Linked DNA regions of Homo sapiens: all the other regions are linked to region 3. The links come from fine-mapping of genetic effects on gene expression. A gene starts in region 3. Each other region holds a variant in brackets. All regions are shown on one strand. Distances are from middle to middle.

Region 1 (2,762 bases), 36 kb before region 3:
GGCTACAGTGAGTTAGGATTGCACCACTGTACTCTAGCCTGGGCAACAGAGTGAGACTCCGTCCTCAAAAAAGAAAGAAAGAAAGAAATGAAAAATTCAGACATGATATTACTTATTCAAGAGAATAACACAGCTAATGACAAAATTCAGATAGAGATACACAAACTCCAACAGTCCCTCCTTACCTCCTGTCCCAACACGTACTTTTCTGTGTCTGCTTCTTGATTGGTCTCTCTCCTATCTCTAATAGAAACACACTCACGCTCATATTTAATAGGCGTTTATTGAGTACCAGGCATTCTTCTAAATTAAACATGTATTGTTTAATTCTCATTAAAATCCTGAGAAAATGGAGGTACAAATTTTGGGGCTGGCCAAAGTTAAAGGTAATAATTTGAGAAGCGTGTGCTTTAATAGCAGAACACAGGTGCCTGCTACTCACTCAAAACAGGGGCTGCTGGTGTGGGTGGAGTGGGGTGCAGGCTCCTTCCCACAGGAACCAGGAAGTACAGCCTGCCATTGGCCAGAAGGCTGCTCAAAGCCAGGCCACGGATGGCTCTGTGTGGGAAGCTAACACACATGGACAGGGTGGGTGTCTGCAGAGGCAGATCTATGGTTCCTCAACCTTGGTAACCTGTTAAAAATCACCTGGGAATGAACCCGAAAACATTATGCTAAGTGAAAGAAGCCAGACACAAAAGGCCACATACTGTAGGATTCCAGGGATATGGAAACATCCAGCATAAGCAAATCCATACAGACAAGAAATAGACTACCTGTTGCCAGCGTGGGGGAAGTGGATGGATGAGGACAGGGTACGGAGAGTGACCGCTAATGGTTATGGGTTACTTTTTGGAGTGATGAAACTGTGCTGGAATTAGGTAGAGGTAATGGTTATGTTACCTGGTTAATATACTAAAAACAACTAAATTGTAAACTTTAACATGATTATTTTTATAGTATGTGAATTATATTTCAAGAAAACATTAAATAAAAATATCTTTCTTGGGTATATATACAAAAGAATTGAAGCTGGAGATGCGAACAGATATTTGTACACTCATATTCACAGAAGCATTAAGCATTATTCACAACAGACAAAAAGTAGAAACAGCCTAAGTGTTCATCACCAGACGAACTGATCAACAAAATGTAGTATATACATCCAATGGAATATTCATTCAGCAATAAAAAGGAATGAAATTTATTAGCCAGAAATGAGGAATTAATTTTTTTTTTTTGAGATGGAGTCTTGCTCTGTCATCCAGGCTGGAGTGCATTGGCATGTTCTCAGCTCACCGCAACCTCCGTCCCCCGGGTTCAAGCGATTTCCCTGCCTCAGCT[G/A]AGATTACAGACGCGTACCACCACACCTGGCTAATTTTTGTGTTTTTAGTAGAGACAGGGTTTCACCATGTTGGCCAGGCTGATCTTGAACTCCTGACCTCAGGTTATCCGCCTGCTTCAGCCTCCCAAAGTGCTGGGATTACAGGCGTGAGCCACCGCGCCCAGCTTGAAATTTTGATAAATGCTAAAATACAAATAGACCTTGAAAACATTATGCTAAGTAAAATAAGACAGACACAGAAAGAGAAATATTGTATGATTCCACTCAAGTGAGGCACTTAGAATAGGCAAATTGGTAGAGACAGAAAGAAAGGTGGTTGTCAGAGGTTGATAGGAGGGAGGAATCGGGAGTTATTGTGTAATGGGTTTATGTTGGGGATGATGAAAGAGTTCTGAGTGTAGATGATAGTAATGGTTATACAACATTGTGAATATATTTGATGCCACTAAACTGTACACTTAAAATGGTTAACAAGGTAAAGATGTTAAGTATATTTTACCACAAATTTTAAAAACTTCTAACACTGAGCTAAGCAGTCACCAAATTTTATCAATTCAAATATAATCTCCCCTCCAAGATGCATTCAGGTGCAGGGCCTTCTCCAGGGCAAAAGGGAATGCATCTGGAACCACCCACATCCCTGGGATCTGATGTCAGCAGTCAAATGAACTCAGCCTCTCAGGCCCCGAGGATTCCAGGCACAAGAATTCCAACCAGTGTAGAGGTCGATTCACACCCAGTCAAGGAACCATGTAGCATCAGGTGAGTATGTCAGCTTCTAGGAAGTTAACGTGAGTCAGTCTCCCAGGTGCCTGATAACCTCTGAGGCACACACATTATTGAGGGCGTCAACAAGGAAACACTCTCTGTGTGCGTAGGAAGTTTTGTTTGTGTTTCTTTCTGCTGAATCCCTAACACCGTGAGCAGGGCCTGGTCATGAAGAAACTCAATAAATCTTTGATGGATGGATAGATGGAGTTTCTCCGCCTGCAAAAATGAAGATCAGAGCCTTGAACCATAGACCCCACCTACCCCAGGCAGCACCAAGGCTTCGAACCTCTATCCCTCTATCTTGCTCTGACTTCCACAAAGCTATTTGTAGATTAAGTATAGAAATGAGTGCTGACCAGCAAACGGGCAGAAATAGTCCAACGTGGCTCCAACACCAACCTCCTCTCTGTATAAACCCTTAACCAATGCAGAAGTCATCATTCTGTTCTCACCATGAGGATGCCTCCCTCAGAAGAGATACAGATGAGAAAAACTTAAAAGCGGCCAATAGCCCACCCAAGAAACTCTGCAGCTCCTGCTGGGGGTGGATTTCCTCTGCTGGTGGTGGGTTTCCTCTGCGGTGGGTGGGTTTCCTCTGCGGGGGGTGGGTTTCCTCTGCAGAGAGTCAGTTTCCTCTGAGGGGGGT
Region 2 (2,762 bases), 24 kb after region 3:
GGCATGAGCCCCCATGCCCAGCCTTATATTGCCTTTTTTGATTCCGTAATGGACATTATCTATTTAAGGGGAAAGTTTTTTTCCTTCCACTCTTCTAAGGTCCAGGGCCCCTGTAACAGAAGATTAATAATAAAAAAAAAACAAGCATTGCCAGGCACAGTGGCTCACGCCTGTACTCCCAGCACTTTGGGAGGCTGAGGCGGGCGGATCACCTGAGGTCAGAAGTTTGAGACCAGCCTGACCAACATGGAGAAACCCTGTCTCTACTAAAAATACAAAATTAGCCGGGCCTGGTGGCACATGCCTATAATCCCAGCTACTCAGGAGGCTGAGGCAGGAGAATCGCTTGAACTCGGGAGGCGGAGGTTGCGTTGAGCTAAGATTGTGCCGTTGTACCCTAGCCTGGACAACAAGAGTGAAACTCTATCTTAAAAAAAAAAAAAAAGGCTGAGCGCAGTGGCTCACGCCTGTAATCCCAGCAGTTTGGGAGGCCGAGGTGGGCAGATCACTAGGTCAAGAGATCGAGACCATCCTGGCCAACATGGTGAAACCGCGTCTCTACCAAAAATACAAAAATTAACCAGGCGTGGTGGCGTGCGCCTGTAGTTCCAGCTACTCGGGAGGCTGTGGCAGGAGAATCGCTTGAACCCGGGAGGTGGAGGTTGCGGTGAATTGCACTCCAGCCTGGAAATGAGGGCGAAACTCTCTCTCCAACAAACAAACAGAAAAAAACAAGCAGAAGTTTATTACCATGTATATGTTCTATATACATGGGAGATACCCAGTGGAATGAAAAATCTTGAAGAAGTGGTTTTGGATTCAGGCTTAAATACCATGTTCAGCTAAATCAAAGAAAGAAAGATATGGGGGAACTGAGCTATGGGATAGTGACCAAGAAAAGTATGATAAATAAAGGTAAGGTTTGTTATGCAGGTTTGTGTCTGTGCTTTCCCCGTTGTTAGCATTCTCTTGTGATTGAGAGACATTTTTCTCTTTCTTATATAGAAAGGGTCTCACCTGTGGCCAGGAGCGGTGGCTCACGCCTGTAATCCCAGCACTTTGAGAGGCCGCGGTGGACAGATCACGAGGTCAGTAGTTCGAGACCAGCCTGAGCAACATGTTGAAACCCCGTCTCTACTAAAAACAAAAAAAATTATCCGGGCGTGATAGTGCGCACCTGTAATCCCAGCTACTCAAGAGGCTGAGGCAGGAGAATCGCTTGAACCGGGAGGCAGAGGTTGCAGTGAGCAGAGATCAAGCCACTGCACTCCAGCCTGGGTGACAGAGAAAGACCGCATCTCAAAAAAAAAAAAAAAA[G/AG]GGTCTCACCTGAAATGGAGATTCCCTTTATAGATGAACATTTGTCTTACAAAAGGGTGACTTCGGCTCTCTTTTCAGAGCTTCCCCTGTGTCTGCTGTTTCTCAAAATGATCCTTAGCCAAAAAGGTGTGCTTTGAGGTAGCATATTCTGGTCTCCTACAGCTATTCAACTGAGGACAGAGTAGGTAAGATTTTAGTTGTTTTACTACCCTTGTCTCCTTCCTTCCTATGTAGTCATATTATAATAATTTTTGCTAAATTAGTAGTTAATATTAACATAAGTATTACTTTGCAATATCATTCACTTTTGCATCAAATAGTGACCTATGATTTATTTTGTATTTTTAAAGTAGTTAATAAGAGCCTGAGTTTTATTCATTTGCTTTTTTTTTTTTTTTTTTTTTTTTTTTTTTGAGATGGTCTCGCTCTGTCGCCCAGGCTGGAATGCAGTGGTGTGACCTCAGCTCACTGCAACCTCCATCTCCTGGCTTCAAGCGATTCTCCTGCCTCAGCCTCCCGAGTAGCTGGGACTACAGGTGTGCACCACCATACCCAGCTAATTTTTGTATTTTTAGTAGAGATGGGGTTTCCCCATGTTGGCCAGGCTGATCTTGAACTCCTGACCTCAAGTCATCCACCCACCTCAGCCTCCCAAAGTGCTGGGATTACAGGTGTGAGCCACCATGCCTGGCTGAATATTATTTTAAACTTTGGAAATATCTTAACATGCTACATAAACTAATGAATTGTTTAGCCCCAGGGAAAAAAGCATCAGCGCCCCCCCCCCCTTAAACTGGTGGGAACTCTTGTAAAATGGACTATTTAGGAAATGCCATTGCAAATAATAATAGAATTCAGAATGTGCAGTTCTATCACATTCCTTTTCCATCTAGGCAATATAGTTACATATTTTTCAGGAATTTGGAACTTAGTTTGGCCATATGTTGTTTGTTCAGCTCCTGTGGCAAAAATAATTATTTGTTGGATTATTGGATATTTTCATAGACTTTACCACCTCCCTTCCAAACTCTCTTAGGCCTCTGTGCATAAGGCATAATATTTTTTAATTTTTATTTAATTGTTTATTTGTTATTTTTTGAGACAGAGTCTCGCTCTGTTGCCCAGGCTGGAGTGCAGTGGTGCAATCTTGGCTCACTGCAAGCTCTGCCTCCCGGGTTCACACCATTCTCCTGCTTCAGCCTCCTGAGTAGCTGGAACTACAGGCGTCTGCCACTGTGTCCGGCTAATTTTTTTGGATTTTTAGTAGAGACGTGTTTTCACCGTGTTAGCCAGGATGGTCTCGATCTCCTGACCTCGTGATCCGCCCGTCTCGGCCTCCCAAAGTGCTGGGATTACAGACATAAACCACCGCACCCAGCCTTTTTTAATTTTTTATTTTGTAGAGATGAGGTCTTGCTATGTTGCCGAGGCTGATGGCAAACTCC
Region 3 (2,762 bases):
CCTGGACTACCTCCTGCCCACGAGAGGTGTCGTGTTGTGTTTTGTTTTGTGATGGGATCTCTCTCTGTCTCCCAGGCTGCAGTGCAATGGCACGATCATAGCTCACAGCAGCCCCAAACTCCTGGGCTCAAGCGATCCTCCCGCCTCGTTCTCTCAAAGTGCTGGGACTACAGGCGTGAGCCACCACGCCCAGCCCCAAGAGAGGTTTTTGTATGGCAGGAAAGGAAGGGCAGTGGTAGTTGCGCACACAGACTCTGGAGTTGGATTAAACAATCTGACTCCATTGTTTAAACACGTTTCTTAGCCGCAGTTGCTTGTTACCTTACTGATAAAATGAGGGTAGTGATAGTACCTACCTCACAAGACTGCTGTACAATTAAATGAGTTCACTACAATATGGAAAGTACTTAGAACTACACCTACACATTGTTAACAGCTCATTGTATGTTTGGGGCTGCTAGCCTCTTCATCATTGTTCTGTGTGAGAAGCACCATCTGACTAGATTCCCAAGGGAGCGGAGGGAAGGAACAGGAAAGGGCGAAGAGAGGCAGGCACGAACATCCACTCTTGGGGGTCCAGTTGTGCAACGTGGCCTCCACTTACACTGATTATTTTACACTGATTTTGCGTGTGTCCATGCGCTGGGAGGAAAGGGAGGACGTGGTCTGCCCCAACCCCGCTGCTCAAGGTCCTCCAAGGGTCCAGTCCCCGGCTGGCAGCCTAGGGCACGTGAGGGCCGGGAGGCTCACCCGCGGCGGAGGGTCTGGGGTCCGGGAGGATCTGGGCAGCGGAAGAAGGGAGGAGCGCGGCTGCACGGGGCGGAGCTAGGGGAGGTCCGGCAGGAGGGAAAGGCCTGTCCGGAGAGAGGGACGCGCATCCGCTGAGGCCGCGCCGGGCGCCAAGGGCGCGGTACCTGGAGTCGAACTTCTGGCCGTCGGGGAACGTCCCCACGTAGTGGTAGCGCACGAAGTCGCCGCTGCGCACGGTGCGCGGGCACTCGTCGGGCACGAAGCGCCGCTCGATCTGCAGCTCCGCGTCGGAGCCCAGGCCCGCCACGGGCGCTGCCTGCCCGGTCACCCAGAGCAGCAGCAGGAGCAGCGGTGGCGGCGGGGGCCTCCAGCCCCGGAACGCCATCGGGGCGGCGAGAAGAGTGGCGCGGACGCAGCGCGGCGCTCGGGCGGCACGGGTCGGCCTGGGCGTTCGGCTGCGTTTGCAAACGTGGACCGGGTCTCCTGGCCCTACCCGGGCTGCAGCCGCCACCCCGTCTCCCCGGCCGCCCGCCCTCCCGGCCGCAGCTCCAGGGGAGGAGCCCAGCCTGGCCGCGCGCCGAGGGCGGGCCTGCTGCGCCCTGCCCCGCCCGGCATTGGGAATGTGCGTGCCGCAGCGGGGAGGGGGGCTGGGAACTCCAGTGGGGACCAAGTCTGGGCCTAGAGAGGGCGTGTCCCCGAGCGAGACACTGTGATCTCCGGACAAGGCTTTGGCCCAAAGTCGGAAGAGAAAAGCGCGTACTGCCCAAGCCCACCCGCTGGTCTCCGCCCGTCCCTGGAGACACCGGGTTTGGTGCCGTGAGGGGCTCCTACGTGGCCGTGGATCCAATTTTCCCTTGCTGCTTTGGAGAGGGAGGGAAAATTAGATTTTAATTTTTTAAGCTTAGTTACAAGGGTATGGTCTACCTTGAAAGAGACCGAAACCATCCTTCAGGACTTTTTTTTTTTTTTTTTAATACTGCTTAAAGGAAAAGGAAGGCCGGGCGCCGTGGCTCACGCCTGTAATCCCAACGCTTTGGGAGGCCAAGGCAGGCGGATCACGAGGTCAGGAGATGGAGACCATCCTGGCCAACATGATGAAACCCCGTCTCTACTAAAAATACAAAAAAATTAGCCAGGCTTGGTGGCGCGTGCCTGTAGTCCCAGCTACTCGGGAGGCTGAGGTAGGAGAATCGCTGGAACCCGGGAGGCGGAGGTTGCAGCGAGCCGAGATCGCGCCACTGCACACCAGCCCTGGCGACAGTACGAGACACTGTCTCCAAAAAAAGAAAAGGGAGGCATGTATTGCGAGAGGCTCCCGTGACACTTGTCTAGGCAAAAGTTTTAAGGCACCGTGAGGGTCCTCCAAGCCATCAGCGGCCGCACTGTGAGCTGATACTTGCAGACATCCTACAAGCTCCCATATACGAGCCTATGCCAGGGAGGACTTCATCATAGAGACCCAGAAGCCACAGGAATCCATTAGAGTAATCAGATGCACTTGGAATTGGAATTGGGTGTTATAATTTATTAAAATTTTGGAATAATGAAAGCAAATCACCAACTCTTTCTCAACTCGTTTTGGAAGCAAACACAATTCTGATACCAAAACCTGGCAAAGAGAGCAACAAAAAAGAAAAATAAAACTGAAAAAACAGGGCACGATCTAATTTATAAATATAAATGCAAAAATACTGAATAAAACGTAATAAAATCGGATTCAACCGCATATTAGGCCAGGCGCAGTGGCTCACACCTGTAACCCTAGCACTTTGGGAGGCCGAGGTGGTTGGATCACCTGAAGTCAGGAGTTCAAGACCAGCCTGTCCAACATGGTGAAACCCTGGCTCTACTAAAAATACAAAAATTAGCAGGGTGTGGTGGCACGGCCTGTAGTCCCAGCTACTTGGGAGGCTGAGGCAGAAAAATTGCTGGAACCTGGGAGTCGAAGGTTGCAATGAGCCGAGATTGTGCCACTAAATTGCACCACTGCACTCCAGCCCAGGCGACAGAGT

Direction of the effects. Positions count from the first base shown, and alleles are read on the strand shown. Sizes are in standard deviations (SD) of each study's normalised expression. Not every link is listed here.
For the expression in lymphoblastoid cells of the gene that starts at base 1,269 in region 3, G is the high allele of the variant in region 2 and AG is the other (large effect, 0.83 SD a copy in TwinsUK).

Evidence for each region. PIP is the estimated chance that this variant, and not a neighbour inherited with it, causes the effect. A credible set is the group of variants that fine-mapping cannot tell apart.
Region 1: its variant is the best candidate, but not a certain one, in a credible set for the expression of FKBP9 in whole blood (INTERVAL, PIP 0.82).
Region 2: its variant is the best candidate, but not a certain one, in a credible set for the expression of FKBP9 in lymphoblastoid cells (TwinsUK, PIP 0.53).

The regions. Positions count from the first base shown.
Region 1 is chr7:32,992,292-32,995,053 of GRCh38, reverse strand. All of the region lies in intron 6 of FKBP9 (FKBP prolyl isomerase 9), which reads right to left. Among named protein-coding and RNA genes, the nearest start is that of FKBP9, 36 kb to the right of the region's middle. The variant G/A (reference allele first, on the strand shown) is at 1,345.
Region 2 is chr7:32,932,140-32,934,901 of GRCh38, reverse strand. It overlaps the pseudogene RP9P. Among named protein-coding and RNA genes, the nearest start is that of FKBP9, 24 kb to the left of the region's middle. The variant G/AG (reference allele first, on the strand shown) is at 1,318.
Region 3 is chr7:32,955,947-32,958,708 of GRCh38, reverse strand. FKBP9 (FKBP prolyl isomerase 9) reads right to left here and starts at 1,269. Exons shown (of 10, transcript NM_007270.5): 1 at 915-1,269. The coding sequence starts at 1,135. RefSeq lists a silencer at 1,013-1,482 and enhancers at 1,573-1,622, 1,472-2,422.